3 linked regions of the Homo sapiens genome follow. Changing the gene in region 1 together with any one later gene gives a genetic interaction. Each region holds a gene or a part of one and is shown in the gene's direction. Other genes may lie near its edges.

Region 1 (7,721 bases):
TTGAAACATAGATTTTAAAACAAATTGTTGAAAGATTAAAAAATCTGCCTTTGCACACTGTTACATTGAAAGTGGGGCATTTGTCGTGAACATTCATTTCAAATATGTAGTATCTTCAGAATATTTGAGAAGGATTTGTATTATATAATTGAAAAATCTGTTAAATTGTATTTATGTTAACTGCTTAATTCTAATAAAATTTCCATTCATTTTTTAGTATCTGCATATATTTACATCAAATGGATTCATTCACTTATTTAAGAGGCAGTACTAATTACCTATAGCGTTCAAGACTGTTAGGTAGAGGGTGTGTAGTGGTGAGTACAACAGGCGTGAGCCCTACCAACACGGAGTTTAAAGCCTAGTAGAGGATATAGACTTAAACAATTTCACAAGTAAATACATAATTACAAATTATAATACATGCTATGAAGGAAACATAGGAGGTACCAGAGAAGGAAGAGTGCTTTGCATTTTTATTTTTAAGACCGAAGAGTGCTATTGGAGGACTTTGAGCAAGTGAATGACATGATCTAACCTACCTTCGTTCATTCATTCATTCATTCATTTTCTTCCTTCCTGGCTCAAGCAGTCCTCCCACCTGAGCTCCCCAAATAGCTGGGACTACAGGTACACACTACCACACCTAATTTTTTTTTGTATTTTTTGTATTTTTGATGGGATTTTACCATGTTGGCCAGGCTGGTCTTGAACTCTTGACCTCAGGTGATCCACCTGTCTCGGCCTCCCAAGGTGTTGGGATTATAGGTGCCTAGCCCATGGTGCCTAGCCCTAACCTACATTTATAAACTATCACTTGCTGCTGTGTGGAGACTATATTGTGAGATTAACAGCAGGGATACCTGCTAGGAAGCAATTGCTGCAGATTGCCTGAGACAAAATAGTTATCATGGACTAGGGGGATGGTGGTGGTGGTGGTGGTAGGTGGTTGGATGTAGGATATATTTTGAAGATAGGTAAATGGTGCAAGATTATGGGTCAGTTTTAAATGCTTAAGTAAATTTTCTTTGTAAGACATTTTAGGATGCCATGTTAAGAATCTCTTTATAACTGTCATTTAAAAAAAAACCACATATTTTCTTAGCATAATTTCCCATAGTAACATTACTATGTCAAAGGCTATGAACATTTGAATGACTTTAGATAAATACTGTAATTGCTTTCCAAAAATATTGTGCTTATTATGTCACCAGAAATGTTTGAATTCTGTCTACAATTCAGTCTTGCCAGTATAGTACATTTCATTTAGAAAAATTTTTTACTATGTAGATGGAAAAAATAATATTTTAGCTGGGAGTGGGGGGACTATGGGGAATAACTTTCCTTCATTTAATATTTTATTGTGAGTTAGTTTAAGTTACTTTATTTTATCGTAGTTTCCTAAGGCTACAAATTAGTAACCTTGGTAACTTATGTACCTAATTTAAAAGTTTACTTTTTTGAAAGGCTGGAAATACTAATTAAAAACGTAACACCTTCATCCTTGTCTTTGCTCCATTATTAACTAGTTTCATTACAGAATCTCTGTGTTTTAAAATCAGATGGGTTTTCATAACCAGTACTTTCTCAGAGTGGTAAATTTAAAAAAATATATAAAGAGAATAAATAATATTTGTTGAGAATACTTCAAATAATGTGAAGAGTTATTAACTTACAGCAGGAGTTGGCAAACTTTTCTATAAAGGGCCATATGGGTCTTTGTCACAAAGTCTTGGGTTTTTGTTTTTGTTTTTTTAAACAGCTATTTAACTATTCCTAGCTAATGGGCAATACAAAAACAGTGGGCAAGATTTGGCCTGTGGGCAGTAGCTTGCTGAAACCTTATTTAGACTCTAAATTTTTTGAAAGAGTCTACATTGATGCATATTTTTTTTTCTTCCTCCAAATACAGTTGACCCTTGAACAACATGCGTTTGAGTGACCATGGGTCCACTTGTGATACACGTTTTTTTCCCAACCAAATGCAGATATGGAGGGCTGACTTTTCATATACCTGGATGTTCCTGGGCCAACTGTAGGACTAGAGGCTGGGGGGGTCTTGGAACCAATGCCGTGTGTATACCAGGGATGACTGTTTCTTATGGCCTGACCTGAAGTTGGAACAGAATCTTTATTAATATATAATTTTTGTTGCGTTTGTTTTCTCTTTATATTTATCCATTCTTTTTAGATCGTATTTCATTTAACACTTTTTCTTCTTTAGTTTTTACCAAGTTGCACTGAAAATAGCTCAGTGACTAATTGCACTTCTAAGAGTGAGGACCCTAGTTAAAATTAACTCTAAAAATACTGAATTTTTAACCTAAACCTTTTATTTCTAATCAACAGTATTATTTATGAGTAGGTTATAGATTACTTTGAAACGGAATGTGTCTCAGAACTTTGCTATCGATATTTTTAAGGTCTGGTAGGGAAAAGATAATAGGAATGAGATTTATCAGTGAATAGGGGACTGCTTTCCCAGTTTCTCGGTCGCACTGGTGTATTCACCATGGAAGCATCTTATGAAATATGTACATAAACTACTAATATCCCACATTACAGGTTGACTATTCTTTATCTGAAATGCTTAGGACCTAGAAGTATTTTTGGATTTTGGTTTTTCAGAGTAGGGATACTCAGCCTACATTGGTAAGTAAAGAATGTGAGGTGACAGGCTGGGCGCGATGGTTGACGCCTGTAATCCCAGCACTTTGGGAGGCCGAGGCGGATCACCTGAGGTCAGGAGTTGAAGACCAGCCTGGCCAATCTGTACTAAAAATACAAAAATTAGCTGGACACAGTGGCACGTGCCAGTAGTCCCAGCTACTCAGGAGGCTGAGGTAGGAGAATCGCTTGAACCTGGGAGGCGGAGGTTGCAGTGACTCGAGATCGTGTCACTGCCCTCCAGCCTAGGCAACAGAGCAAGACTCCATCTCAAAAAAAAAAAAAAAAAAAAAAAAAAAGAATGTGAGGTGGCAGCAATAGGTAGGAAGAGTCTTTGGTCAGCTTTACATGCTCTGTAGCCATGCCTGGGTAATGGGTTGACTCTAAGACTCTGTGCTTTGCTCCCACCTCCTGCTTTTTCATTACTCTTTAGAATGGTTTTTAATTTGTGATCTATAGGAGTTCTTTCAAGTATTTAATAAGAGAATAGGCTAAATTAAGTAAATGTCAACTGAATGCTCAAATCTCTACTAAAGAGCCTCTTATTTAGAAAATAAATATCCATCTTTTTTTTCTGACTGGTGAGATAATTAATTTTTATTACAGATGGTTTGGAAAATACCATATGCTTTAAAAGATAAGCACAAAATTATAGTCTAATATGTAGGTTTTCATACTTTAAAAAATTGAAAACCAAAGAAAAACATTTAACATAGCATCTAGTACAAAGAAAAGAGATAAGCAAGAGATAAATGTCTTTTTTGGGACAGAGTTTTGCTGTTGTTGCCCAGGCTGGAGTGCAATGGCACAATCTCAGCTCACCGTAACCTCCACCTCCCGGGTTCAAGTGATTCTCCTGCCTCAGCCTCCCGAGTAGCTGGGATTACAGTCATGCACCACCAGGCCCAGGTAATTTTGTATGTTTAGTAGAGATGGGGTTTCTCCGTGTTGGTCAGGCTGATCTCAAACTCCCGACCTCAGGTGATCTGCCCACCTTGGCCTCCCAAAGTGCTGGGATTACAGACATGAGCCATCGCACCCGGCCAAGATAAATGTCTTTTAAATTATCTCCATTAAAGACATAACCTTTATAACATTTTGATGTATATATTACCAGTTTTTAAACACATAGTAGATTTGTATAAATACATAAACACATATTATTGTGATCATGCTGCACTTAGACATCTTTATATTCTCCTTATACTGTAAACATTTTGAAATACTTTACTAACAACATTTGTAATGACCATTCTTTCTCTCTTTCTCCCTCTGATAGAATGGTCTACAGAGTAATTCATAAACTAAACATACTTTAGAGGCTGGGCGCAGTGGCTCATGCCTGTAATCCCAGCACTTTGAGAGGCTGAGGCGTGCAGATCACGAGGTCAGGAGTTAGAGACCAGCCTGACTAACATGGTGAAACCCCATCTCTACTAAAAAAACAGTACAAAAATTAGCCGGGCGTGGTGGCGTGCACCTAGAATCCCAGCTACTCAAGAGGCTGAGGCAGGAGAATCACTCGAGCCCAGGAGGCAGAGGTTGTAGTGAGCCGAGATTGCACCACAGCACTCCAGCCTGGGCGACAGAGCGAGACTCCATCTCAAAAAAAAAAAAAAAAGATACATTAATACTATAGCCTACATGTGGAACATTAAGAAAATAATTGCTTTTATGTTTATGCTTTATACCTGTTGTTAGCCCTGCTTCTTATTTCATGATTTCATGGCTTCACATTGTAACATCCCTTTACCATATTTTTTGAGGACTGTTTTGGCAGAATGTGTGAAATCTTGAGCAGAAGTATTACCCAAAAGTCAGAAGAAAATCAGATTTTTATTTCAAGATTCTGTTAAAGTTACCCACTCCCTTCTTTTACTTAATCTTATAGTTGCAGTTCTCTCTCTTTTTAGAAAAGAAAAAAGAGGCCCCTCAGGATTTGCAGATGAAACAATATTGCTCTTTAGAGATATCCATCTGGCTGTTAGATTATTTTTCCACAGTTTTCAGAAGTGGATGAGGCCATTAGAATCTTGAGTATTGCCCATTTCCTTATGTGTGCCTTTGACTATAGATAAAATAGATGCATGACAATTATTTATAAGTTGATTGATTTTTCTTGTCATTTAAATCATCTTGAATAATAGAGTTGGTAGAGCTATCCCATTTTTGAAATTATTTTGTTTTGTCAATAACTTTTTGTTACCAGCATGTACACTTGCATTGTTGACTCTCCATATAATACCTTTAAAAAATTTTTTTTTGTGGTAAAATATGCATAACATAAAGTTTACCATGGTAGTTTTCTTTCATTTGTTTTGTTTTTGTTTTTTTGAGACGGAGCCTTGCTCTGTTGCCAGGCTGGAGTGCAGTGGAGCGATCTTGGCTCACTGCAACCTCCGCCTCCCGGGTTCAAGCAATTCCCCTGCCTCAGCCTCCTGAGTAGCTGGGACTACAGGCGCCCGCCACCACGCCCGGCTAATATTTTGTATTTTAATAGAGATGGGGTTTCACCATGTTGGCCAGGATGTTCTTGATCTCCTGACCTCATGATCCGCCCACCTCGGCCTCCCAAAGTGTTGGGATTGCAAGTGTGAGCCACCGCGCCTAGACCATGGTAGTTAATTTTAAGTGTTCAATTCAGTGACCTTAAGTGTGTTCATAATGTTGTGCAACCATCACCATGTTGTCTAACCATTAGCACTATCTGTTTTGAGAACTTTTTTTTATCATCCCAAATTAGAATTCTGTACCTGTCAAATAGTCCCCAGTAATCCTCCCTCCCCCAGCCCCTGGTAATCTGTAGTCTACTTTTCGTCTTTTTGAATTTGCCTATTTTAGGTTCCTCATATAAGTGGAATTATGTGGTATTTGTCCTTTTGTGTTGGCTTACTTCATTTAGCATAATGTTTTCAAGGTTCATCTGTGTTGTAGCATGTATATACAGGTTGAAGCATCCGTTATCCAAAATGGTTGTGACCAGAAGTGGTTTGGATTTCAGATTTTTTTTTTGGATTTTGGAATATTCATAGATACTTAACTGGTTCAGCATCCCTCGTCCAAAAATCCAAAATCAGATGGAGCTCAGTGGCTCATGCTTGTAATCCCAACACGTTGGGTGGCCAAGGCAGGAGGATCGCTTGAGCCCAGGAGTTCAACCAGCCTGAGCAACACAAGACCCTATCTCTCCAAAAAAAAAAAAAAAAAAAAAAAGATGAAAGAAAAAAAAATCCAAAATCAAATGCTCCAGTGAGCATTTCCTTTTAGCATCATGTCAGGCTCTAAAAGTTACAGGTTTTGGAGCATTTTGGATTTCAGATTTTTGGATTAACCTGCATTAATGCTCAACCTATATGAAATTTTATTCCTTTTTATGGCTGAATAATGTTCCACTGTATGTATATACTACATTTTGTTTATCCATTCATCTGTTAACAGACACTTAAGTTATTTCCACATTTTGGGTATTATAAATAGTGCTGCTGCGAACATTGGTGTACATGTATCTGTTTGAGTCCCTGTTTTTAGTTATTTTGGTTATATACCTAGGAATGGAATTGCTGATCATATGGTAATTCTGTGTTTAACTTTTTGAGGAACTACCACTGTTTTCCACAATGGCATCACCATTTTACATTCCCACCAGCAATGCACAAAGATTTCAGTGTCTGTATCCTTGCTAACACTTATTTTCCATTTTTTGAGTTTTTTTGTTTTGTTTTTTTAATAATAGCCAATCCTAATGGGTATGTGGTAGCATCTCATGGTTTTGATTTTATTTTCCTGACTATTGATGATGTTGAGCATCTTTTCAGGTGCTTAGTGGCCATTTGTCCGTCATCTTTGGAGCAGGAACAATGTCTTTTCAAGTCCTTTGCCCATTTTTAAATTGAATTTTTTGTTGTTGAGTTGTATATAACACCTTTTTTGAAGTAAAAGGTGCACTGTAATAATCCAGACTGTGTTTCTCCCTTCTCAGGATTCCTACAGGAAGCAAGTAGTAATTGATGGAGAAACCTGTCTCTTGGATATTCTCGACACAGCAGGTCAAGAGGAGTACAGTGCAATGAGGGACCAGTACATGAGGACTGGGGAGGGCTTTCTTTGTGTATTTGCCATAAATAATACTAAATCATTTGAAGATATTCACCATTATAGGTGGGTTTAAATTGAATATAATAAGCTGACATTAAGGAGTAATTATAGTTTTTATTTTTTGAGTCTTTGCTAATGCCATGCATATAATATTTAATAAAAATTTTTAAATAATGTTTATGAGGTAGGTAATATCCCTGTTTTATAAATGAAGTTCTTGGGGGATTAGAGCAGTGGAGTAACTTGCTCCAGACTGCATCGGTAGTGGTGGTGCTGGGATTGAAACCTAGGCCTGTTTGACTCCACAGCCTTCTGTACTCTTGACTATTCTACAAAAGCAAGACTTTAAACTTTTTAGATACATCATTAAAAAAGAAAACCATAAAAAAGAATATGAAAAGATGATTTGAGATGGTGTCACTTTAACAGTCTTAAAAGCAATCGTGTGTATAGCATAGAATTGCTTGGATTGGATAAACAGTGGCATTATATATTTTAAAAAATAAAAGTTTTGAAAGATTGAAGAATTTGGGCATTACAGTTCTCTTAAATCTGACAAAGCTGCATAAAACTATTAAAATAATCATTATTATACTATTTTATATTCTATTTCTTTGAGGGTTTAGTTTTCCAAAAACTACATATTAAGCAAATGAATCACTCAGTGGCTATGTCATATAATAACGAGTTAGCCTAGTTATAAGAAGTTTAACATTTTATTTAAGAACATTGTTACAGCATGTTTACTGTATAGTCTAGTAATAGAGGAAAAGACATTTGGGTGGGTGGTAGTGGTAGTATTTTTATAGAGGAGTTACCAAATTTCAGCTCTATTATCCAAGTTTACCCAGCTAATGGTGTTCGGAACCGGGAATTTGAGCCAATTCTGACTCTGTTGTCTGCTCTGCTCCTTCTTTTGTGCTGTGTCTTTGAAAGTCACCTAAAATTGTGAGGGAATG
Region 2 (7,721 bases), on another chromosome or scaffold:
AGATATTATGAAAGAAAGGGTACAATTGAGTGTATTAGTTTTACTCTCAGCTGTGTCACTAACTAGCTGTGTAATCTTGCCTAGGTAGTTTTAACTTTTCTGGACCTAGTTTCCTTAAGTATAATGTGAAGCAGTTAGCTTGAATCACATTAGGTCCTTTCCACCCCTGATTCAGTGTTTTGTTGACTCCTATTTTCAATCCATTGTTTCTATCAAGGAAAATCTTTCAACATAAAAAAATAAAATGAACAGCTAGTAAGCATCACCTAGCCACTTTGGTTCGTCTCTTTAAGCTAGGGGTTCACATCTCTACTCCAGATGTATTGAACTGTGTACTTCGGTCCTTCAAATAGGCCAGTCTCTTATTTGGCTCCCCTTCTTGCACCCCCATCCCCCAACCCCCACTCTCCACCTTTAGGTTTGTTCCTTGTTGAGAGTTTAGATGCTGCTTTCTCCAGGAAGCCTTCCTAGAGTTGCTTGGGCAAATGGATGTTGGAGCCTCTCATTGAATTAGCCAATGCTGGAGAACAGCTTTTGTGGAGGAAATTGATGTTTTACTTTGTTCATGAAATCTGATCAGGTGTCAGTTGAACATTCAGGTAGAGATGTGTGATAGGTTGTCTAGTGTACAAAGCTGGAGACTAGGAACAAGATCTAGGTTGAGAGTATAGTTGTAGGAGTTACCAGTTTATAAATGGTAATTCAAACTGTAGAGTGTATGAAATGAGCTAAAGGGGAGAGTGTAGATTCAGAAGAGAAGAAAATACTGAAATCCCGAAGAAAACCCATGTTTAAGGGAGAATGAAGGGAGAAGAGGAGAAGATTGAAGAGTAACCTGTGAGATTAGAGAAAAACTAGAAAAGCATGCACTCATGGAAGCCAAGCATATCAAGTAGGATGAGGACAGTAAAGAGTGTTCACAGGATTTAACAACAAATAAGTCATTGGTGATCTTGACAAAACACTTTCTTCCCCCGCCCCAAGACCGATTGTTGCTCTGCTGCCCAGGCTGGAGTGCAGTGGCATGGTCTGGACTCATTGCAACCTCCGCCTCCCAGGTTTAAGCTATTCTCCTGCCTCAGCCTCCAGAGTAGCTGGAATTACAGGGCATGCACCACCACGCCCCGCTAATTTTTTTTTTTTTTAAATAGAGACGGGGTTTCACCATGTTGGCCAGGCTGGTCTCGAACTCCTGATCTTGTGATCCGCCCGCCTCAGCCTCCCAAAGTGCTGGGATTACAGGCGTGAACCACCACACCCAGCCGACAAAAACACTTTCAATGGATTAGTGGATGAGGCGGTCAGATGATAGCAGGTTGAGGAGCTGATTGGCAACAGTGCCTATAGTCAATTATTTTAAGAAGCTTTGCTGTTAAAGGGTTAGGTGAGAATGTGGGAGATTTTTGAGGGAGCTTATTTAATGCTTATGGAAAGGAGCTTGGAAAGAATAGGTTGTAGATACAGAAACCAGGGCAGTTAGTTGATGGAACTCAATTGTTAGGGATATTGGGATTCCAGATGGAAGGTAATCCAGATGGAATACCTTTAGCCGTGAAGGAGTTGTGACAGAAGGAAATGAAGTAAACAAAGGTGTAGGTGCAGCTGATTTGTCATTTTGGGGGCCAAGAAATGAAATGCTTTCCAATTTAATTTTTCTTCTCATTGAAGGCAAAAGTAGTTATCTACTGAAAGTGAGAAGGGGTGGTAAAGTAGTATTTTTGCTAAGTGGAAAGGGTTGAAAATCATTACTGTGAAGAGTAGGAGAGAGAATGGCCTTGAAGAATAAAGAAAGATTGCTGATTAAAAACAGATGTTTAAGGTGGTGACAACATACCAGTGGTGCCTTCTGCATAGCTGTGTAATTTGGGGTATTCACTCAGGCACCTCACTTTCAGCTGAGATTGGAATCCTGAGGGTTGGTATAGAGAAGGTGACTAACAGTTGGTTTATTCAAGGTTGCTGTTTGCTCACTAGACATGACAGAAGAAATATGGGACAAGTGTGTTGAAGTTGGCAAGAAAATGGCCGAAGAGATTAACCATGAAGTCTAGACCAGGAGTTGGCAGACTATAGCCTATAGGCCAAATCTGGCCCACCACCTGTGTTGGTTGTTTTTGGTGATTTTGGTTTTTTTTTCCCCCTTACATTTTAGATGTTTAAATACCTACATAATATCCATAATATGTCTCTTAGCCCACATAACCTATTAATAAAAATACTTACTATTTGACACTTCAGGAAAAAGTTTGCTGACCCCTTATCTAGACTAAAATAGGATTATAATAAAATGGGATGGGACTAACAGGCAGAGAATAGACGGGTCAAGGGCCTTAAAGTCTCGGTAAGATCCAAATATTAGGTATATTGGAAGCAACTGAGCGAGAGACCTGGGAAGGATAGAGGTTGTGGTGAGATAGGATTGTGAGTTGAAGACTTCAGATCTGGGGCAGCTGTGAGTGACCCCAGGTCTAGCTGTGGCCACAGTAGTGGGTAGCTGGAGCAGAGATGGGCCTGTCCGTGGAGTTAAGGGCAAGGAACTAACAGCCTGAGTGGAGACAGTCAAGTTGCCCAGGGGCTGGAGGAAGGGAAGGCTGATGGCCGGCCATTCACATTTCCAATTTGGGATAGGAGAGTTAATATAAATAACAATCAAATATATTCAATCCTTAAACGTGAGGGAAACCTGACTGGAAGGCTGATCATTAATTTTTTTTTTTAAGACCTGGAGCCACAGTGTGGAAGGGGTTGCTAGTGAATAGGGAGGCTTGTGCGTGTTAGGTAGCATTAGTAAATGGTACCAACCACGTAAAGCAGAGCCACCAGCACTTGGGACATTGAACCAAAACCAATCTTCGACGCTTCCAGCTGCCTTACTGGCGATTCATTTAGAAGAACGTGGCTTTCCTTTGTTACTGTAGTTTTTGAAGGCAGAACTAGCATGAGTTTGTGGATACAGACTTCAGCCTTCCTTCAGTGTTCCATGCACATAATCAGAATGACCTTCCTTCATCGCCGCAGGTTATTCTTACAGCTGGATGGCAGGGTCGTTGAAGAACTTCCTCATGAGTGACCTTCAAGTCCTTTCTAATCCAGATTCTGTGATAATACAAGTATGATGCAATTTTCACTAAAAGCTAAAAAAAAAAGCCCATCTAATCAGAGATGATCTTCACCTCTAATTTCTTGTTTATTGTCAAGTAATACCTCTGTTGCAGGCACTTTATAGGGCTACAAAAATGAGTGGTCCCCGTTGATATTGTGCTGTTATCCGTATCTTCTTTAGCCATTATTTCTTCATATGTGAGAAAGTAGTAGCCTCAGTTTTACTTTAAAAAAAAATTTTTTTTTTAAATTTAGAGTCTTGCTATGTTGCTCAGACTGATCTCGAACTCCTGAGCTCAAGTGATCCTCCTTCTCAGCTTCCTGAGTAGCTGGGACTATAATAGGCTTTGTGCCACCATGCCCAGCTTACTTTTTTCTATTTCTGCTTTATTTTATCCTCATGTCTGGACCATAGATAGATCATTGTTATCCACCAGCAAGAATGTGTCATGGCATAAAACAGTCAAGAAATCTAAGTGAAACCTTGACTGGGCTGTCTTTGGGCTTGTGCGGTAATGCCTCACATGCAGTGAACTCTCAACAAATGGCTTTTAAATTGAATTGGAATCTTCCATTTCTATATTAGCACATTTTGTACCTTTAGGAAAAACTTGATTTTAATGTGTTGTTTTCGTATGTGTTTGCTTGTTTCTTGAGTAGCTGATGGATTTACAACTGAGTGACAGTAACTTTCGTCGACACATCCTGTTGCAGTATCTCATTTTATTCCAATATCTCAAGGGGCAGGTCAAATTCAAAAGGTAAGATAATATGGGTAGTAAACAATTTGTAAACAGTAGCCAAGAAAAAAAAGGACTTGCTTACGATTTTTCTTATGTATGTGTCCATTTCATGTTAAGGCTGTATCCCTAAAACACATGTATTGCAGCTGATACATTGAAGGCTTTTCGATATTAGGATATTTAAGGAAAAGATGTTAAATATATCTGTCAGTGTGAGTTTTTCCTGCCCAACTCCAGGGCTTGCCAGGAGTTGTCGTCTTTATTAGCAGGTGGAGGTCTCTGCTCCAAAATTCCGTCATTCCCTTCTCACCTCCCTCAGACCTCCTCCAAAGCTGATTTGCAGACTAAGCCAGTAATACATATCTCACAAGGTGTGGAGCTCTGCAGGACATTCAAGCTAAAAGATGCAAAGAAAATTTTTAAGCAAAAAGGAGTTCATTTATTTGGGGTTTCACAAAACCTCATTAGGCTCTCTACTGTCTATCTAAATACTTCCATCCATTTCCTCCTATCCTGTCCATAACTGAAGGTGGAGCCCACTGTTACTTAACGGTATTTGTGTTAAGGACACTGAGCAATGCCGTATTAGTTGTATAATGACTTCACTACCTGCTGGGTTTGAATCCCAGGCTCGTCATTTGCTGGCTGCAGTGCAGCTCTTTCAGACTTGTAATTTTAAGGTAGTAGCACATGGTAAACACTCAAAAAATGTTATTTCTTATCCTTCTATCTATTTTGGAGGTTTGGTATAGCATAGTAGGAAGATGAGGGACTTTGAAGTGAGACGTGGGTTTGAATTAAATCTTTATGGCCTTGGGCAAATCAGTGAGACACGGTAGTCTCTGTTTAATATGTACATGTACTTGTTCCGAGAATTCAATGAATAATGTATGTAAAGTGTTCAGATCCTAGCCATCAATATTTATTGGATGTCTTTAAATCACCTAGTGCATTATGAGAGCTCAGTTAGTGGCAGCTATTAACAATTTGGGTTTGCCTGTTGCCTTTTCTAGGGTTTGGGTGTTTTATTCGTTGTATTTTGAATGAATCTTAATGTAGCATGCCATACTGAATGTGCATCATGTATACACATATCTTAATATCAAATCAGAAGTTTTCGTTTCACACTCAGCTTATTTTAGGAAACATATATTGCTCTGTTCATAGTGAATCTGATTGATTAATTGAATGTTTTATTCCCTGCATATGCTTTTATGTCTTCAGTACCAACCCTCTTGAGGAAGAAGTGCAAGAATTTTCTCTTATAATCCTCTCATTTGTGATTATTCTTGTCTTGGTAATTTTTGACACTATCCACAGTATAGTTACATGTTACATGCCTTGTGTTTTTTAAACCTTAAAGTTGCATATGCATTGCTGTAACTCAAGCATGCTTTCATTGCTTTGTTCCCTAGTTCAAACTATGTTTTAACTGATGAGCAATCACTTTGGATTGAAGATACTACAAAATCAGTTTATCAAGTAAGTTCAACACGCAACAAACCCATGATTGAAAAAATGGAAATTTAGGATTTTCTTTGTTTCAGCCCCAAATAGGAAAATAAGGATAAAGTTAAGCTCAGGTACAAGACCACAAACACTCCTTGGTTCTCTGCCTACAAACCACTCCTATGATGCAGAAAGTTGTTGAAAGCTTAGTATATTCTTTCTAATCACAGCTACTATCTGAAAACCCCCCCGATGGAGAAAGATTTTCAAAGATGGTAGAGGTATGTGTTTTTTATGCTTACATCCTCTTCTTAGCACGAAATAGAACTTCAGAGGATTCCACTAACCAAAATGTAATCGCTTTGTTTTTCCCAGCATATATTAAACACTGAAGAAAACTGGAACTCGTGGAAAAATGAAGGTTGCCCAAGTTTTGTGAAAGAAAGGTAAATACATACTGAAAGAAAGGTAAATACATACTCATCACAAGAACGACGAGAAAGGCTTTTGAAAATGTGCTCCGATATGATTATAGCATGTAAAAATACATGTATATATTTCACATAAAAAATGTAAGTTGAACTTTGTAAGAGTACAACCACTTTGATTTACCTCTGTATTTTTTAAACCTCATAAATTTCTTGTCATTAAATTCCTGGAACAAACATCTTATTATTGAGAAGAATACTGTATATCTACTCCGTGTAATTTGCCATATAATGTGGCATTTTTATCTTATATCTGATAATTGTTCTATCATAATATGAAGTTTTCATTTTTTTTTTTTTTTTGAGAGGGAGTCTCACTCTGTCACCCAGGCTGGAGTGCAGTGGCATGATCTTGGCTCACCGCAGCCTCCGCCTCTTGGGTTCAAGCGATTCTCATGCCTCAGCCTCCTGAGTTGCTGGGATTACAGGCGCCTACCACCATGCCTGGCTAATTTTTGTATTTTTAGTAGAGACAGGCTTTCACCATGTTGGCCAGGCTGGTCTCAAACTCCTGACCTCAGGTGATCCACCTACCTCAGCCTCCCAAAGTGCTGGGATTACAGGCATGAGCCACCATGCCCAGCCAGTTTTCATCTTTTTTAAGAGGAAAACAATAACTAAATTTTCTTTTACGTTAAACATTCTTCTATTTCTGTTATCCATTTGTAATTCAAAAAATAGTGTATGTTTTGTTCACGACAGAACATCAGATACCAAACCTACGAGAATAATTCGGAAGAGAACAGCACCCGAGGACTTCCTAGGGAAAGGACCCACCAAAAAAATTCTGATGGGAAAGTAGGTGAATTTGTCTTCATGTGGGATGTTCTTAGTTATTTTTATATTTTGAAGATGTTACTTTAAGAACTCTCCATCCAAAATATAGTATGAGATTGTGTTTGGTACACACATAGATAGCCAAAGCAAACCGCACTGTCTATACTGCCCATTGTGTGGGTTCATGCACCAGATAAACCTTCATTTTGTCTCCAGCTTCCAAAATCTGTGTCTCTAGGCTGTGCCATTTTTTCCGTTTCAGACAGTAGAATTGTTTAGATTCCAGTTGTTGCAAGGTACCATAATCCTTGAGTTCTCTTACCTTCCAGTTAACTATTCATTGCTTTATATTGTGCTGGAATATTTTTAGAAAAAACTAAAGATTATATCATTATCATTAGTCATGATTAATGATTATATGCTCATATAGAGAATAATTTTAGGTATTTTAAATACCAAAAATTATTGAGAAAAGTAAAACTCATACTGTCAACATCCCCAAATCCACTGTTTACATTGTATTGTTTTTCTGTTCAGTTTCAAGGCACATGAGGATGGTGTCCATAAAAAATGTATTTATTTCTGTGTCTATTTTGTAGTGAGGAGTTAACAAGGCTTTGGAATCTTTGCCCTGATAATATGGAAGCCTGTAAATCAGAGACAAGGCAAGTTGAACATTTTTCAAATGAAGTGTTGCTTTTGTCAAGTGTTGAGTAGAATGGAGCCTTTTCTCAGCTATGATCAGAGCTCAAATGAAATTTAAAAGTTTATTGTGGTTGACTTTTGGCACAGCAGCGTGTAACTTCCCACCATAAAACTCCTCAAAGTGCTGATAAAATAATTTTAGAAATCACAAAAAAATAAAGATTCACAAAAGGAATCAAAACTACAAACAGAAGAGTAAGCCTATGAACTGATACGGTTCTAGGGCAGCAGTACTAATGATTGCCAGCTTTGAGAACCAGGGAACTTGGGTTTTAATAGTCACAAAAGTTCGTTGAACTTGCAAAATGGGCAAGTTTAATAGCAGTCTAGACATAGGTAAAGTAAGAATTAATGGGTTAATTAATGATTAAGAAATCACCCAGAAAGCAATACAGAAGGAGCAGAGTTAGAAACGATGACTTAATGATAGTTGAGGAGGTCCAGCAAACATCTGATG
Region 3 (7,763 bases), on another chromosome or scaffold:
CCATTAAAAAAAAAAAATAAGGTAATGTCCTAACTTTAATGTACAGAAGTTGATTTTCCGAAATATTGACCAACTCTTAAAGTTCTAAAAAATAAAAAAAGCTGCCAGGTATGGTGGCTCACTCAGGCCTGTGATCCCAGCAGTCTGGGAGGCCAAGGCAGGCATATTGCTTGAGCCCAGAAGGTTCAAGACCAGCCTGGACAACATGGCAAAACCCCATCTCTACAAAAGATACAAAAATTAGCAGGGCATGGTGGTGCATGCCTGTAATCCCAGTCACTCAAGGAGGCGGACGTGGGAGGATCACCTGTGCCTGGGAAGAAGGTGGAGGCTACAGTGAGCCATGACAGTGCCAGTGCACTCCAACCTGGGTGACAAAGTGAGACTGTCTCCACAAAAAAAAAAAAAGAAAAAAATGGAAAGTATAATTCTTCCCTCAATTTACATGGTACTTGTGTACCTGGGAATTCAGTATACATTAAACCATGCAAAAAATGCTCTGTATTTATATAAATTGGAGTTAGGAATGAAGACCTGTATCCACAAAGTATTGAACACCTTAAGACCTGTAACTCGTTAGCTTGTTATATTTGAAATCTGAATGTTGCTGTGGTGGCTCACGCTTGTAATCCCAGCACTTTGGGAGTCTGAGACTAGCCTGGGCAACATGGCAAAACCTGTCTCTACTAAAAACACAAAAATTAGCTGGGCATGGTGGTGCACGCCTGTAATCCCAGGTACTCTGGAGGCTGAGGGAGGAGAATCACTTGAACCCAGAAGGCGGAGGTTGCAGTAAGCCAAGATTGAACCACTGCACTCCAGCCTGGGTGACAGAGTGAGAATCCGTCTCAGAAAAAAAAAAAAAAAAAGTAAATCCATGGCTTGGTATCAGTATCAATCATGTATTAATAAAGCTAAATTCAGTGTGAAAATGCACCTACGTAGAAAATCCTGTTTCCCAAAATTCTCTGCAGGTTACTTGAAAAACAGAAAAAAAGCATAAACTAGAAAACCCTAAAATCATCTTAAAATAACTAAAGATTAACCACTCATTTACATATTTTTATTTGGAAGTGTTTATATCAGTACAAGGAAACAATTTTGGAGACACTGGATGTCATTAGTTATCATTAGTTTATTATAAAAGAGAAATATGGAAATTATTTACATGACGAAAGATTTCAGAACTTCAGTGGAATGGGCAGCATCATGTTGATGCCATTTCAATAGTGACTTATTTCAGTCTACGTACTTTCCAAGAATGTCACCATCTCTAAATAGGAAATAATCCTGCAAGTGAAAAAAACCATTAGTTAAGACAACTAATTGCAAATATCTGACTTCTTTTTAGAATTATTAAGTTTACACACCTTGTCATCTAGAACTACTTTGGTGCCTCCATATTCTGGGAGAAGAACTTTATCTCCAACTTTCACGCTAACTGGTTGAATCTCTCCACCCTTAAAAAAGGAAGGATGTTTATTAGCAAAGATATCTAGTTCACCCAACATAAACAGTTAACTTTTAAATCACTACAACTAATGAAACATGGTCACTCAAATCCAATTATATTAAAAATATATTTCGTGGCTAAGTGATACGACTCATACTAGAATTACAGATCTTCACTCAAAAATACCACTGTAGTTACACTTTGAAATAATACACAGTGGCTTAAACTAAAACCTGACTCCAACGTAAAAGTTCAAGAAAATATTCTGGAAAAGCTAACTTTAGTTAACTAAAGCTAACTTTATAACTGTTAAATATTAACATAACTTATCAACTATATGAAATAAACCTGCAACAGTAGCCAGCACCCAGAAAATGCCATATACAAATGGTCATATTTTCCTTCTTTCAACATACAAAAATTTAAAGTTTTTTTGGATTTAGAACATACTCTTGTGATTGTTTTGTTCCCTCCAAAGAACAGATTTGGGGAAAGGGACTGCAGCTAAGTGTCCACTCCCCAAAGTCTTCCTATTCCTAACTCCATGACAGCTCCTCAGTAGAGCTTTCCTCCTCAGAAGCAACTAGAACAATGCAGTTAACATTATTTGGCCCCAACGGCGTTTACTGTGTATTTTGGCTGAGATCTTTAGAAGCCCGAGGCCTAAACAATTAACTGAGGAACATCTAAAACAGAGGTGTGCAATCTTTTGGCTTCCCTGGGCCACACTGGAAGAACTGTGTTGGGCCACACATAAAATACACTAACATTAGCAGTAGCTGGTAAGCTTAAAAAAAATTGCAAAAGAAATATCAGGTTTTAAGAAAGTTTAGGGATTTGCGTTAGGCGGCATTCAGAGCTGTCCCAGGCTGCAGATTGGACAAGACTGACCAACCTGTTCCTCTGGTAGGTATACAACCAGGTATACCAACTGGTTAAGATTAGGGCAATTTCAATGTGTTAGGGGTTAAACGAACAGTCCAAGTTTCCTCTCAATTCTTAAATGCCCCCTCATTTTACCTTGAAGCACATCTTTTGTATTTATTTATTTTGTAGACAGGAGGTCTCATTATGTTGCCCAGACTGATTTTGAACTCCTGATTTTGAATCCTGAGCTCAAACGATCCTCCTGCTTTGGCCTCCCAAAATGCAAGGATTACAGGTGTGAGCCACCACGCACAGCCTCTTTTGTCTTATTAAAAATTTAGAATGTAAGGCAAACACTGATCACACTAGGCTACCAAATTGCTATTGAGGGGATTTTTTTTTTTTTTTTTTGAGACAGAATCTCGCCCTGTCCCCCATACTGGAATGCAGGGGCGCCTTGCAACCTCGGCTCCTTGCAACCTCCGCCTCCAGGGTTCAAATGATTCTCCTGCCTCAGCCTCCCCAGTAGCTGGGATTACAGGCGCATGCCACCACACCCGGCTAATTTTTGTATCTTTAGTAGAGACGGGGTTTCACCATGTTGGTCAGGCTGGTCTTGAACTCCTGACCTTGTGATCCGCACACCTCGGCCTCCCAAAGTGCTGAGATTACAGGCGAGAGCCACCGCACCCGGCCTATTGAGGACAATTTTTAATACTCTGAAACTATCACATAAAATAAGCATCATAGCATTGGTCATATAAAATAAGCAACTTTATATTAGTCATTTCCCTTTAAGAAACAGATTAGAACCAAAGCAGTTAATGATCTTGAAAACGACATAAACTCTACTTAATAAGCGACTTTTAATACTCCAGAATTACTTCTTTTCCCTCCACTGCACACTATAAAAAATAGTTCCACTGCAGCTCCCATTTACCTTTCCTTTAGAACCCGATCCAACAGCGACTACTGTTGCTTGCAATACTTTTCCTTGAGATTTTTCTGGAAGCATAATGCCTCCTTTGGTTACAGTTTCAGCAGCACTCCTTTCAACCAATACTCGGTCAAAGAGTGGAAGAAACTTTCTAAACGCTTGTCCTGCCTGTAGGAAGAGAAATGTTTTGAAACAAAAACTAAATGTAATCACATTATCAACAGGCAACGCCACCGTGCTATACATCTCAACACGTTTTGGCTTTGAAAGTTAACACCAAACCTCAGCTTATTCGTTAAGGAAGCGCATTTGAATGTACTAACCAATATTCCAAGTTTAATTCCCGATTCCTTACGTCTGTTAGGGGTCGTTGTCGCTCCTCCGGTGAGCAACCAGACCAGCTTTAAGGTCAACCTTAGTTTATTCCAAGGTCAAATGTTTTCCTTCTTCAGGTTTTTCCAGAAATTTTCAGGAAACGCTGGGTCAAGCTCCCTGCCTGGCACCATGATTTTTACCCAAGATATTACACATCCACAAAGGCCCTGCAGAAGCAGGTGAGACGCTGCGCGTGCGCCCGGGTTCTCGCCCCCCTGCCTTACACACCGGCAGCACACGCGCGTGCAAAGAGCCCTGGGGGAGAAAAGGGTCGGGCGGGCCTTGCCGCTCCAAGGTGCCATCGGGCGCTGGTCACTGAGTGGCCACCAATCCCTCCCGCCCAGCCCAACAAAAGAGGGGCGTCAGGGATCCCCGTACGCCTCAGACAGGCCCGGGCCTGCAGGCCTCGGGGCCACGCGGGACTCACCATTACTCCCTCCGCCTCAGACTCGTACTCTGCTCTAGTGTAGCGCCGCAAAGAGACTCGCAGTCCGGCCCTGGCGACACGTGAAAAAATCACCCAGCGCGCAGGCGCGCTCGCCCCAGCGGTCGCCGCTAGCCCCCTCGCCCCTCCCAGGGAGGGAGGGCGGTCGCCCCGACGCGCACCGCGATTCGCCCCAAGGGCCCTGCGCAGGACGCTGACGCGAAGACTCGGAGGCGGAAGAAAAAAGGAGCTGTTTCTAGGCTTTTCTAGGCGCCCAGCCGAGGTGAAAGAACTACCCCTTCGTCCCCTCCCGGAAATGACGCGATTTGACCCTTGAGCCGTAGGGAGCGCGGCATTTTCTGGAAAGTTCTGGAACCGAGCGAGGCCCGGGAACTAGACTAAGCCGGCCGGAGAGGGCTGAGCGCGCTAGCACACCCTGCGCGGGTAGGGAGGGGCGGGGCTCGCGCGCAGGGTGTGCAGATTGCAGGGCCCGGGCTGACGGGAAGTGGGTGGGAGCTGCCTGCACACGCGGTGCCGCGGGGCGGGAGTAGAGGCGGAGGGAGGGGACACGGGCTCATTGCGGTGTGCGCCCTGCACTCTGTCCCTCACTCGCCGCCGACGACCTGTCTCGCCGAGCGCACGCCTTGCCGCCGCCCCGCAGGTACGCGGCCTTCCCGCACCACCTCCCCCCGGCTCCTGCGACCCCCGAGTGGGCCTTCCTCCTCTGCGGTCCAGCTGGAGGGTGCGGGCGGCGACAACCTGGAGTTCCGCACCGCGCCGCACCGCAGGCCCAGGCCTGCGGGTCCAGGCCTCGCGGGTCCATGCGGGTTCCATCACGTGCGACGCGGATCCTGGACCTCGGCTGGGCGCGGGAGGGACAACTCGTGGGGTTTGAATTTGGGGGATTGTAACCACTTAGGCCCGCTGGTGCAACCTGCGCCTGGCCGACTTCAGGGAACCGGGGAGGGTGGTGTACGTGAGGGAACCGCTTTTTTCCCCCGCAGGCAGCTGGGATACCGCGCCTCCAGTCTTGACCTTGCTGGGGGCGTTCGGAAAGAAGGACACGTGGGCTCGCGCCGAGTGGGCCGGGCCGCCGCCCCCAGCATCGCGGCCTTGCTGGTTGCTCTGATACAGTAGCCTTGGGTGGATCCATGGAGACACTTTGCTGAGCGGCTTTTTGCACCGTCAGGAATACTTTTAACTTCCCTGGTCACTTGGATTTGTAACTTGCCTCTCTCCGGCTGACTTGGTTTCTCAGGGGCCACAGTTGGAGTGGGTCTGCCCACAAGGCCGTTTTCGCGGTGAAAGATTAACTCGTTTTTGGCGGCAGGGATAGGTGGCCGTGGGGAAGGAGCCGCATGTGCTTTGTGCTGGTGCTATAGGTCAGGCGCCGGCCGGGGCGGCCTCTTTAGCTTGCGCTAGTGGCTGATGTTCCGAAGCTGCGGCGCCTTCCGTCATTCAGGCGTAGTGGCTGGCGGAGGTCAGCCAGGCTCAGCATCTCACGTTGCTTGCTCTGTTGCACAGGTGGGCATGTTTGTTCTGCAGCGCACCACGGGTGGTAGTTCTGATGATCTTTTTGCTTCCATCCCCAGAAATGCTTCGGTTACCCACAGTCTTTCGCCAGATGAGACCGGTGTCCAGGGTACTGGCTCCTCATCTCACTCGGGCTTATGCCAAAGATGTAAAATTTGGTGCAGATGCCCGAGCCTTAATGCTTCAAGGTGTAGACCTTTTAGCCGATGCTGTGGCCGTTACAATGGGGCCAAAGGTACCAGTATTTTTATTTTATTGTAATTACGGTATTATTAATAGCATTTTACTCACAAATAGTCGCACTGAACTATTCAACAGTACTTTCATCTCCATTTTTGAGAGAACTCAGTTTACATGTAAGAATTCTGAAGTATTGGTTAGCCTTTTTTTCTTAGACATGATCTTAAAGCTTAAACTGCTTCAGCCAGATTTTCGAAACTATTTTGTTCAATGTGTGATGTAATCAGGTAGTAACTTACAGCTCAAGGTGGATTCTTAAACTCGAGGTAGAATTTCGCTGGCTTAAGTTAAAATTTGGATCCTTTCCCAGTAGTTCATGCCAAGTGTAGAGAGAAGAGTTTAACTTATCTTCCATAATTCCTTAGGTATGTGCTTGTAGATGCTAAATTTTTTTTTGGTTTATTGTAGTAAAATGTACACAACATAAAATTACCATTAAGTGTGCACTTTGGGGACATCAATTACATTTATGTTGTGCAGTCATCACCACCATCCATCTCCAAAACTTTTTATATGGAAAAATTGTAACTTTGTACTCATTAGACAGTAGCTTCCCATTCTCTCCTCCACCCCAAGATGCTAGTTTTACCCATCGGTTTTCTGCTGTTCTCTTGTTCCAAAGCATATTTAAAATAAGTCTCATTTAATAGGGGTAATGTTTTGAGGAGGCCTTTGAAGGTGGTGTGCAGTCAAGTGGTGCTTCATTTCAGTTTGAAGACAGTTCAGATATCAAGTGATCCAACAACTGCCTAAAATACAACATTTGCACACCTCACAAATAGAAAGTAGCAGCTTTAGTTCAAATCCAAAGGATGGCCAATAATTGTGCCATGGTTGAAGTTTTATGTTGCGTGAACCTGGAAGAGCACGCTACTTGCCTTGATGGTTAATATTTTAGTTAAACGGATTTTAAAACAAGTCACATTACTTTAAAAGATAACAGGCACTAACTAAAGTATAAGTGATAGGAAGATTGTTTTATTCTTTGTCTTGTGTTCTTGTTCATTTTATAAGATGACAAGTTTTAGTCCCTAGGATTTTAATCTCCTAAATTACCTAGTTCAAAATTATGCTCTTGGCAGAGAATCAGGTCATTTTGTCTGTAGACAAAGAATGTCGATAAACTTGCCCTTGAGGTTCATGCTGCAAGACTGATAAAAATGACACAACTTACGTTGAGACTTTGAAGTAGTTGCTTTATTATGAAGACTGCTCATTTTTAAAAATGTAAATCATCCTTAGGGTATGTCTGATCCTGTTACATTTTTTTCTTCTAGGGAAGAACAGTGATTATTGAGCAGAGTTGGGGAAGTCCCAAAGTAACAAAAGATGGTGTGACTGTTGCAAAGTCAATTGACTTAAAAGATAAATACAAAAACATTGGAGCTAAACTTGTTCAAGATGTTGCCAATAACACAAATGAAGAAGCTGGGGATGGCACTACCACTGCTACTGTACTGGCACGCTCTATAGCCAAGGAAGGCTTCGAGAAGATTAGCAAAGGTGCTAATCCAGTGGAAATCAGGAGAGGTAGGAATGTCTGTTGTCACCACAGTGTTCTAAACTTCAGTGTGCTTTAAGGCATTGATTCCTTGGACCTAAGGAAAGTGTTAACTTGAGGAAATTAATCCTTCTCTCATTCCTCCTCTTGGCCTGGAGAAATCTTAAACTGGGTTTTCCTTTAGCAAGCTTGGCTGTATGGTGGGTAGGTACTGTTAGGTAATTTTGATATTTTACTTAGTTGGTTTCTTTTGTTTTTAGAGACAGGGTCTTGCTCTGTAGCCCAGGCTGGACTGCACTGGAACTCCTGGGCTCAAGCAATCCTCCTGCCTCAGCCTCCAAGTAGCTGGGACTACTACAGGCACTCACCACCATTCCTGGCTAATTTTTAGTTTAGTTTTGTAGAAAGTAAGACTAAATACACTGGATCATTC

Evidence for each region.
Region 2: changes in KRAS (region 1) and THOC1 are lethal when combined (synthetic lethality), as found in Homo sapiens cells (4 studies listed by BioGRID, with this or other methods).
Region 3: changes in KRAS (region 1) and HSPD1 are lethal when combined (synthetic lethality), as found in Homo sapiens cells (3 studies listed by BioGRID, with this or other methods).

What each region holds. Positions count from the first base shown.
Region 1 is NC_000012.12:25,226,338-25,234,058, reverse strand, and holds part of KRAS (GTPase KRas), read left to right. Parts: intron 1-6,646; coding exon 6,647-6,825; intron 6,826-7,721. UniProt on the Homo sapiens protein: Ras proteins bind GDP/GTP and possess intrinsic GTPase activity. Plays an important role in the regulation of cell proliferation.
Region 2 is NC_000018.10:222,943-230,663, reverse strand, and holds part of THOC1 (THO complex subunit 1), read left to right. Parts: intron 1-3,762; coding exon 3,763-3,863; intron 3,864-5,260; coding exon 5,261-5,327; intron 5,328-5,524; coding exon 5,525-5,575; intron 5,576-5,669; coding exon 5,670-5,740; intron 5,741-6,463; coding exon of another isoform or gene 6,464-6,484; coding exon 6,485-6,580; intron 6,581-7,158; coding exon 7,159-7,224; intron 7,225-7,721. UniProt on the Homo sapiens protein: Component of the THO subcomplex of the TREX complex which is thought to couple mRNA transcription, processing and nuclear export, and which specifically associates with spliced mRNA and not with unspliced pre-mRNA.
Region 3 is NC_000002.12:197,496,736-197,504,498, reverse strand, and holds the start of HSPD1 (60 kDa heat shock protein, mitochondrial), read left to right. Parts: upstream 1-4,658; 5' UTR 4,659-4,717; intron 4,718-5,648; 5' UTR 5,649-5,650; coding exon 5,651-5,824; intron 5,825-7,106; coding exon 7,107-7,359; intron 7,360-7,763. Other genes in the region: HSPE1 (10 kDa heat shock protein, mitochondrial), read right to left, coding at 1,240-1,290, 1,371-1,460, 3,261-3,425, 4,060-4,062; HSPE1-MOB4 protein, read right to left, coding at 3,261-3,425, 4,060-4,062. UniProt on the Homo sapiens protein: Chaperonin implicated in mitochondrial protein import and macromolecular assembly. Together with Hsp10, facilitates the correct folding of imported proteins.